Linked DNA regions of Homo sapiens: region 2 is linked to region 1. A link means that fine-mapping ties the variant in region 1 to the expression of a gene that starts in the linked region. Tissue or cell type: whole blood. Region 1 holds a variant in brackets; the other region holds the start of a gene. All regions are shown on one strand. Distances are from middle to middle. Region 1 overlaps LINC01872 (long intergenic non-protein coding RNA 1872). Region 2 holds the start of CD33 (CD33 molecule).

Region 1 (4,391 bases):
GTACAAAAATTAGCCAGGTGTGATGGCACATGCCTGTAGTCCCAGTTACTCGGGAGGCTGAGGTGGGAGAATTGCTTGAACTGGGGAGGCAGAGGTTGCAGTGAGCCAAGATCGCGCCACTGCGCTCCAGCCTGGGTGACAGAGCAAGACTCCATCCCCACCATAAAAAAAAAGTAAAGCTTCCATGCTTGCAGGTACCAGATGAATGGGGCCTGTTTGTGAAGACATAGGAGACTCCTTGGGGACTCCTAGAAAACTTTTGGAGGAAGATGACAAGGAGACTCTGCAGGGGGCTCTGCAGCTGAGGAAGGACAGTGGAATTTCCATTACTCCATTGTTCCAGTGATATTTCCACCATTGCCCCTTCACATTTCCACATCTGCATGGCATCCTTTTAAATTATAAATCAATCATGTCAGTTCCCTGTTCGTTACCATCTGTTGGCTTCACTTTACTGTCAAAATAAACTCCAAAATTTGACAGATTTTGGCAGACTGCTAGAAATACTACCTAACCCTACTTCCCCTCTGTTTCTCTTTCTCTCCTTGGTCAGCTTCTGCCCCTTCACAGTACGCAGGGAAGTAACTCTGTATCTATTCTGACCAGAATGTGAGTTCCTTGAGAAAATTAGTCATGTCCAAATATCTTTTGTGTGTCATGTTGGAATCACCTTTGTGTACCACTTCTGGGTGGCCTTTGTGTGTCATGCCCAAGGTACCTTTATGTGACATAATGGAGTCCACCTTTCAAAGTCAAGTCTGAGTCACTTTTGTGTCTCTAGTACCCAACACACAATCTGGAACACAGCTGGTGCATAATAAAGCTTTATCAAATGAAAGAAGATTTGGAACCAAGAAATTTGGGGTTTTGGCAAGGCGCGGGGACTCACACCTGTAATCCCAGCACTTTGGGAGGCCAAGGCGGGCAGCTCACTTGAGGCCAGGAGTTCGAGACCAGCCTAGCCAACATGGCAAAATCCCTTCTCTACTTAAAAAGCAAAAATTAGCCAGGCGTGGTGGCATGCGCCTGTAGTCCCAACTGCTCAGGAGGCTGAGTTATGAGAATCACTTGAACCCAGGAGGCAGAGGCTGCAGTGAGCAGAGATTGTGCCACTGCATTCCAGCCTGGGAGACAGACAGAGAGAGAGAGAGAGAAAGGGAGAGAAAGAGAGAGAGATAAATAAATAAATAAATAAATCTGGGTTCTAGCTGTGGCTCTGCAGATACCTTAAAATAAATAAATAAATAATACCGAACAATCATGGTGGCCCATGTGCTGTGCACTGGAGATTCACATACTTTATCATTCTCAATCTCACAACAGCACTGTGATGTAGTTCTCAATGCATCACTTCGCAGATAAGGAAACTGAGGCCCAGAACAGCATAGGAACTAGTCAGGTTCACAGGGCCAAGAAATGGACATCCTGAAGTCATAATGTAGGTCCCTGGACTCCGAACCCAGTGTTCTTTCCGGTATGCCAGGCTGCCTTCAGAACTGCTGTGTCATCACGGTTGAAGCCTCTTCTCCTCTCTGAGTCCCATGCTTCATGTATAAAATATGGGAATAAATCAAACTGTCCTGTCCACCTCACAAGGTTTGAGAAAGACAGTGGGAAAAGCATATAGTTTTGCACCATATGAGTTACAAATGTCTTCCCCCTCGACTTGTGTGGTAGGCAAAATTCTAAAGATGTCTCCCATTCCAAGATTCCTGTGCCCTGGTTATTCAATTAAACATTAATCTACGTGCTTCAGTGAAGGGACTTTGCTGACTGAGTGAAGGGACTTTGCTGATAGAGTGAAGGTGACTAATCTGCTGATCTTAAATTGAGGAGATCATCCTGCACTATCTGAGTGAATGTAATGTAATCACGTGAAACTTGCAAAGCAGAAAAGTCAGAGAGATTCAGGAGAAAGAAAGGGCATACATGAGCCAGAAGTGGAGGTCAGAGAGATGTGAAGCATACGAAGGATTTGACTCACCATTGTTTGCTTTGAAGATGAAGGAACGAACCCACGAGCCCATGAGGGCAGCTCCTAGAAGCTGACAATGACCCCAGCAGACAGCTAGCAAGGGAATGCAGACCTCACTACTACAAAGCATGGAACTGATTCTGAATGTGTTTGGAAATGGGTTCATCCAAAGGGACTCGAGAAAGCAACATAGCCCTGCCAACACTGTGATTCAGGCCTTGTGAAAGCTGGAGCAGAAAACCAGGGGAACCACGCCACACCAGAACTTTTGACCTTCTGTGAGATCATACATGAGTGTTACTTTAAAAGCTGCTAAAATTGGGCTGGGCCCAGTGGCTCATGCCTATAATCCCAGCACTTTGGAAGGCCAAGGCAGGTGGATCACATGAGGCCAGGAGTTCCAGGCCAGCCTGGGCAACATGGCAAAACCCTGTCTCTACTAAAAATATTTTTAGAAAATTATCCAGGTGTGGTGGTACTTGGGAGGCTGAGGAATGAGAATAGCTTGAACCCAGGAGACAGAGGTTGCAGCGAGCCGAGATTGCACCACTGCACTCCAGTCTGGGTGACACAGTGAGACTTGGTCTCAAAACAAACAACAAAAAAGCTGCT[A/G]AAGTTGTGGTAATTCTTTTTTTTTTTTTTGAGACGGAGTCTCGCTCTGTCGCCCAGGCTGGAGTGCAGTGGCGGGATCTCGGCTCACTGCAAGCTCCGCCTCCCGGGTTCACGCCATTCTCCTGCCTCAGCCTCCCAAGTAGCTGGGACTACAGGCGCCCGCCACTACGCCCGGCTAATTTTTTGTATTTTTAGTAGAGACGGGGTTTCACCGTTTTTAGCCGGGATGGTCTCGATCTCCTGACCTCGTGATCCGCCCGCCTCGGCCTCCCAAAGTGCTGGGATTACAGGCGTGAGCCACCGCGCCCGGCCAAGTTGTGGTAATTCTTATGAAAGCAACAGGAAACCCATACAACTTGGATGTGAAGCCAGTTCAAAGGAAGGGTTCTAGATTCTTCTGTGAGTGGACGGCCAGCAGTCCAAAGGCTTGGTCTTTGCCTCCCATTTTCTAGGTTTTTCTGGGCCAGGCCCTTCCCTCACTAGGGAACTGCTTCCTCATTTAAGATAGTCTAGAGTTTGCAAATTAGTGGCTTTGTGAGGTAGTTAAAATGCAGGGGGTTTTATTTAGCCTGCATTAAGAAAACTGCATACAGACTTTCTTTCATTAGTTGCAATGTTTAAAAATCAGGATCCTCACATAAAAGTCTGAACTCCCAGCTACTTTTTAATAAATTAGATCTGACAACACATGGCAGATATTAACTTTCCCCTTTAATATTGGACAATTGTTCTCCAGTCCATTGCTGCCCCTGCTCTCCCTGCTGCACTCACCTGGGAGGGGCATATAACACAGTGGTTAAGACCGTGTGCTGAGTCAGCCTGCCTGAGTTTAAGTCTGGCGCCACCATTTGCCAGCTGTGTGACTGTGGGCAAATTACTTCCCCTCTCTGGGTTTCCCGTTTCCTCACTTATAACATGTAGATTTTAACAGGATTCATCTGACAGAATTGTTGGGAGCATTAAATGATTAAATGAATGAATGCATGTAAAACCCTCAGAACAGAGGCCAGCACAAAATAAGTGCTAGGCAACTGTTTATCATTCACATCACCTGCCTGGTTCCCTCAGCATTTAATTTGTGACCGCTCTTGACTCATCTCTTTTCTCAGTGATGTTTTGATTCAAGAACCAGCCCTCTGCTTTTCCATTCTGATCGCTGCCTCTCTTAAAAAAACGACTCCCTCCTTACATCAAGATGCTACTCAGGCTTCCAGATAACAAATCCTATCTCTGCATCATAACCCACTTTTGCTTTTTTTTCACTATCAAAATCCTTCCTCCTCCTCCTTTAATTTACAACCTCGAATCAAAGGTTGGGAAGAGCTCTGGGCTGGTTCCAACTGGGGCTTTGCCAGTAACTCGTTGGATAGCTCTGGGCAAGTTCTGTCCCCTTTCTGCTTCCCCCTCTTTTTCCTCCTCGGTAGAATGGGAGGGTTACTGCAGACTATGTAAGGGTCCTTCAGATTCAAAAACTCTGATCTCTCACATCTGTAATCCCAGCACTTTGGGAGGCTGAGGTGGGAGGATCGCTTGAGCCCAGAAGTTTGAGACCAGCCTGGGCAACACAGCGACACCCTGTCTCTACAAAACAATTTAAAAAATTAGCCCGGCATTGTGGGTGCAGCTACTCTGGAAGCTGAGGTGGGAGGACTGCTTGAGCCTGGGAGGTCGAGGCTGCAGTGAGCTGAGATTGTGCCACTGAACTCCAGCCTGGGTGACAGAGCAAGACACTGTCTCAAATTAAATAGATGAATAAAATAATGAAATAAAAATAAAATTCTGATCTCTTTCCAGTCTCACTTCC
Region 2 (4,391 bases), 49 kb after region 1:
CAACAACAGATGAATAAATAAAGGAAATGTGGCGTATATACACAATGGATTATCATTCAGCCATAAAAAATAATGAAATCTTGTTATTCACTATAACATAGATTGAACTAGAGGACATTATGTTAAATGAAATAAGCTAGGAACAGAAAGTTGAATACCACATGTTCTCACTCATAAGTGGAAGCTACAAGAAGTTGATTTCATAGAAGTAAAAAGTAGAACAGAGAATAATAAGGGCTGGGAAGGTTAGGGGAACAATGATAAGGAGAGAGATTTGTTAAAGGATACTAGATTACACCTGGAAAGGAAGAATAAGTTCTGGTGTTCTATACCACTGTAGGATGACTATGCTTAACAATAATAGATAGCTTCAAATAGCTAGAAAGGGGATATTGAATGTTCCCAACAACAATGAAATAATAAATGTTCAAGATGATGGATATGCTATTACCCTGATCTGATTACTATACATTATTAGTATGGAAACATCACTATGCCATCCATAAATATGTACTATTATTACATATCAATTAAAAATAAAATACCCCAAGACATTCAGAGACAGGAGGGAGACAAAGAGCATTATTTGGATGGGCAAGGGGGAAGTTGCTAGTCATCCCCAAATATCCTTTTCCAAGGTGCCTGATGTCTACCCGTGTCTAACTGCAGGCCTTGCCTCTGAACATTTGACTCTGAAAGTCCAGATCTGACCAAACCTGACACAGACTCAATGTCAGTAACAGCCCCAGGCGGGGAGGCTCCTTCCTACCTGAGCCATCTCCTGGAAAGATACCAGTTGTTGGGTTCTGTGGAACATCTAGGAGAGGAAGAGAGGATTTCCTTCAGTTGGGGGTAGAGATGAGATAAGGGTAGGCATTTCCCCTTACTCCTGCCAGAAACCACAGAAATGCAGAAGGGACAGGGCTCATGTCCTTCTGGCTCCCGAACTCAGCCAGGCCTCCAGGACACTAAATGTCCCCAGCACCAGCCCATCCTGTCTCCCCTACACCCTCAGGGACCCCAGCATCCTGGCCCAGCACTTACAGGTGACGTTGAGCTGGATGGTTCTCTCCGTAGTCACACCAGCTCCAGCGAACTTCACCTGACAGGTCAGGTTGGTGCCGTGGTCCTGGGGCCGTGGGGTGATTATGAGCACCGAGGAGTGAGTAGTCCTGGGGCCCAGGGAGGTGGGGGCAGCTGACAACCAGGAGAAGATCGGGGGTGTTCCCTGCTCACAGGCCCAGGACACAGAGCAGGTCAGGTTTTTGGAGTGGCCGGGTTCTAGAGTGCCAGGGATGAGGATTTTGGGCCTGTGGGTCAAGTCTAGTGAGGAGAAAGAGGGGATGCAGAATCAGGAGGGAGGGTCCAGGTGAGGGCCTGAGAGAAGATCAACCTCTGGTCAAGCTCCCCCGCTAAGCACGACAGGCTTTACCCCTAAACCCCTCCCAGTACCAGGGTCCCATCCCAGCCCTGCCCTGCAGTACCCATGAACTTCCCTTGCGGCCACTTCTGAAGCCTGTGCCTCACCTGTCACATGCACAGAGAGCTGGGGAGATTTGTAACTGTATTTGGTACTTCCTCTCTCCATCCGAAAGAAGTATGAACCATTATCCCTCCTCCTGGCGTCTACGATGCTCAGGGAGCAGTTGTTCCTACTGGGATCCCCAAGGAGGCGGAATCTGCCCTGAGTCTCCTCCTGTACTTCTTGATCTAGCTTGTTTGTGGCCACTGGAGAGTCCCTGGATATAATGGCTCCTTCCCGGAACCAGTAACCATGAACTGGGGAGTTCTTGTCGTAGTAGGGTATGGGATGGAAGAAAGTGCAGGGCACGAGGACGCACAAACCCTCCTGTACCGTCACTGACTCCTGCACTTGCAGCCAGAAATTTGGATCCATAGCCAGGGCCCCTGTGGGGAAACGAGGGTCAGCTCGGCCCAGCCCGACAACCCCTCTCCCCACAGCCACTCACCTGCCCACAGCAGGGGCAGCAGTAGCAGCAGCGGCATGTCTGAGGAAGCAGCTTCCAGGGCTTCCTGTGTGAGCAGAAAAGAGGAAGGGAGTGGAGGGGAAGGACTACAGGGCCGGACAGGAAGCTGGGGAGGAGCAGGAGACCTCAGCCCTGCATGGAAGAGGAACCTCAGACCCACACATGCTCAGAGCTTGTCCCCTCCACACAGATTGACCCTCATGGGCCAGAGATGCCAGAGACCCGCCCAGAGATGGGAGGAGATGGAGCAGAATCTGAGTCTTGCCTTCCAGGAGCACCAGAGCCTGGATCAGTACCTTCAGGGCCATCTGAGACATGCGAACCCCATGTCTAAAGTCCTTCCACTCTGAGGTGCTTTTCTGTGCACAACTGTTTACACCAGGGCTGATCACTGCTGGCCTGGCCCGAGTCGCAGCCTCACCTAGATCCATGGGGTGTTTAGTCCAGCAGGATATAGGATTCTATAGGGTCCGTGTGAGTGTCTGGGGCAGAGAAACAAAGAAGAGTCCTAGGTAAAGTGAAGGTGGCAGCCATTCATTTATTCATTCATTCACTAAAGATATAGTGAGTGACAGAGCAGGAGCACCGTCATCTCGGAGAAACACTGCCTCTTTAAGTTCCAATTTCCTTTCTAGCCTCATGCATTTCAAGGAAATCACTTCTCTGCTAACTACAAGCAACCAGAAAGAGCAGACAGTGAAACACAGATAAGACAGCTCGGGCACAGAGGGAGGTAGGGGGAGAGTCTCTTGAGTTACTGCCAAACTTCACCCTCATACAATGGCCCTAGTAAAACAGTGGGCCTTAATAAGCAAATTCCTTTCCCTTCAGGTGCACTAAGATAGGGAAGCTAAAAGCAGACTCAGTGGGTATGCCTGTAGCTGCAGAAAGATGTATGGGTACAGACACACACCTCTCTCTCCCAGATAAGCACAACAAAGAGACTCAGAAGCAGTCCAAGTCTCTGATAAACTCTCCCACCCTAAATCCTTAAAAACTCTTAGTCTGTAAGAGAGTGTGCCTCTGACTTAACTCGGCCAGAAACTCCTCTCAGGTTTGTTTTCTCTAAAATCTGTCTTGACTGGTGAGCCACCATTCGTGTTTCTTTCCTCTTTCTTTAATTCTTACAGTGAGCCTTTGTGTATAGGTGGGGCTTGAGAAGAGATGCCACTGACCTGATTCCTGCCCTTAAGATACTCCCCATCCATAGCCTCATGTCCTCACCACACACACACATGCTGTCTGGCTTTAGAGCTGTGAAAAGTTGGGAATTTGCCATGTATCATGGTAGCATATTGGAAATTTTAAAAGAAATATGACTATAGAATTTTCCCCTGGCACCTAGTACACTGATTTGCACAGTGTCAATGACATCTCCAAAACAAGAACCATGCAGCATCTTCCTGTGAAACAAAAGGGAGAACACATGTTCTATGAACCAGTGCAGAAAAAACTTCTTTTCCATTCATGCTGCCATTTGGTTCAGTGTGGGCAGAAGCAAGTTTTTTTAGAGGCTCATCATATGGATCAACATTTTCTTTCATGTAAAAATCTGCTTCTCACAGTTAAATATGGCCCAAAGACATAATATTTCCAGACAACATGAGTGGAGTGTACAGAGAAAATTAAACTTTAGGTCCAGCTACATGGTTTTCCATATCACTCTGTGTAGTATGCATCCAGCAAACCGTTGATCCCTGGGACATATTAGTACTTGCCACCATACCTTTGTCAAATCTCTACACACAATAGTATCTAGATAACTCTTCATTCATCCTTACTAATAGAGAGGTAGCTGCATCCTCATTTGATATACAACAAATTAAGTCTCCAGTAAATAATATCTGTTGTAAGTTATTTAAATATTTAGCATGTGGCACGTAATAGAAAATTCAATACATTTAGTGCTTTTTTTTTTAAGACAGGGTCTTGCTTTGTTGCCCAGGCTGGAGTGCACCGGCCTGACCACAGTTCACTGCAGCCTTGACCTCCCAGACTCAAGTGACTCTCCCACGTCATCCTCTCTAGTAGCTGGGATCACAGGCTCATACTACCAGGCCGGAGTAACTTTTTGTTTTTATGTTTAGGAGAGATGGGGTCTTGCTATGTTCCCCCAGGCTGATCTTGAACTCCTGGGTTCAAGCAATCCTCCCACCTCGACCTCCAAAGTGCTTTGACTATGGGCATGAGGCACTGTGCCCAGCCACATTTAGTTTTAACAATAAAGTCATACTATGTTCATGGACCAGAAGATCAAATATGAATATGTGAGTCTTACTGTGTTTCTTTAATGAATTTAATTAGGTATAATTTACATGAAATAAAGCACACCTACTTGAAGTTCACATTTGCATGAGATTTGACGAGTATGTACAGCCTGTATACTCACCACACTGCAGATAT

The links. PIP is the estimated chance that this variant, and not a neighbour inherited with it, causes the effect. A credible set is the group of variants that fine-mapping cannot tell apart.
Region 2: it holds the start of CD33, and the variant in region 1 is the best candidate, but not a certain one, in a credible set for the expression of CD33 in whole blood (TOPMed, PIP 0.57).

What each region holds. Positions count from the first base shown.
Region 1 is chr19:51,271,662-51,276,052 of GRCh38, reverse strand. The region is part of intron 1 of LINC01872 (long intergenic non-protein coding RNA 1872); the gene reads right to left. Among named protein-coding and RNA genes, the nearest start is that of LINC01872, 2.6 kb to the right of the region's middle. The variant A/G (reference allele first, on the strand shown) is at 2,588.
Region 2 is chr19:51,222,735-51,227,125 of GRCh38, reverse strand. It overlaps CD33 (CD33 molecule), which reads right to left and starts at 2,046. Exons shown (of 7, transcript NM_001772.4): 1 at 1,971-2,046; 2 at 1,528-1,908; 3 at 1,045-1,323; 4 at 770-817. The coding sequence starts at 2,007. The region is part of intron 2 of LOC107985327 (a long non-coding RNA gene); the gene reads left to right.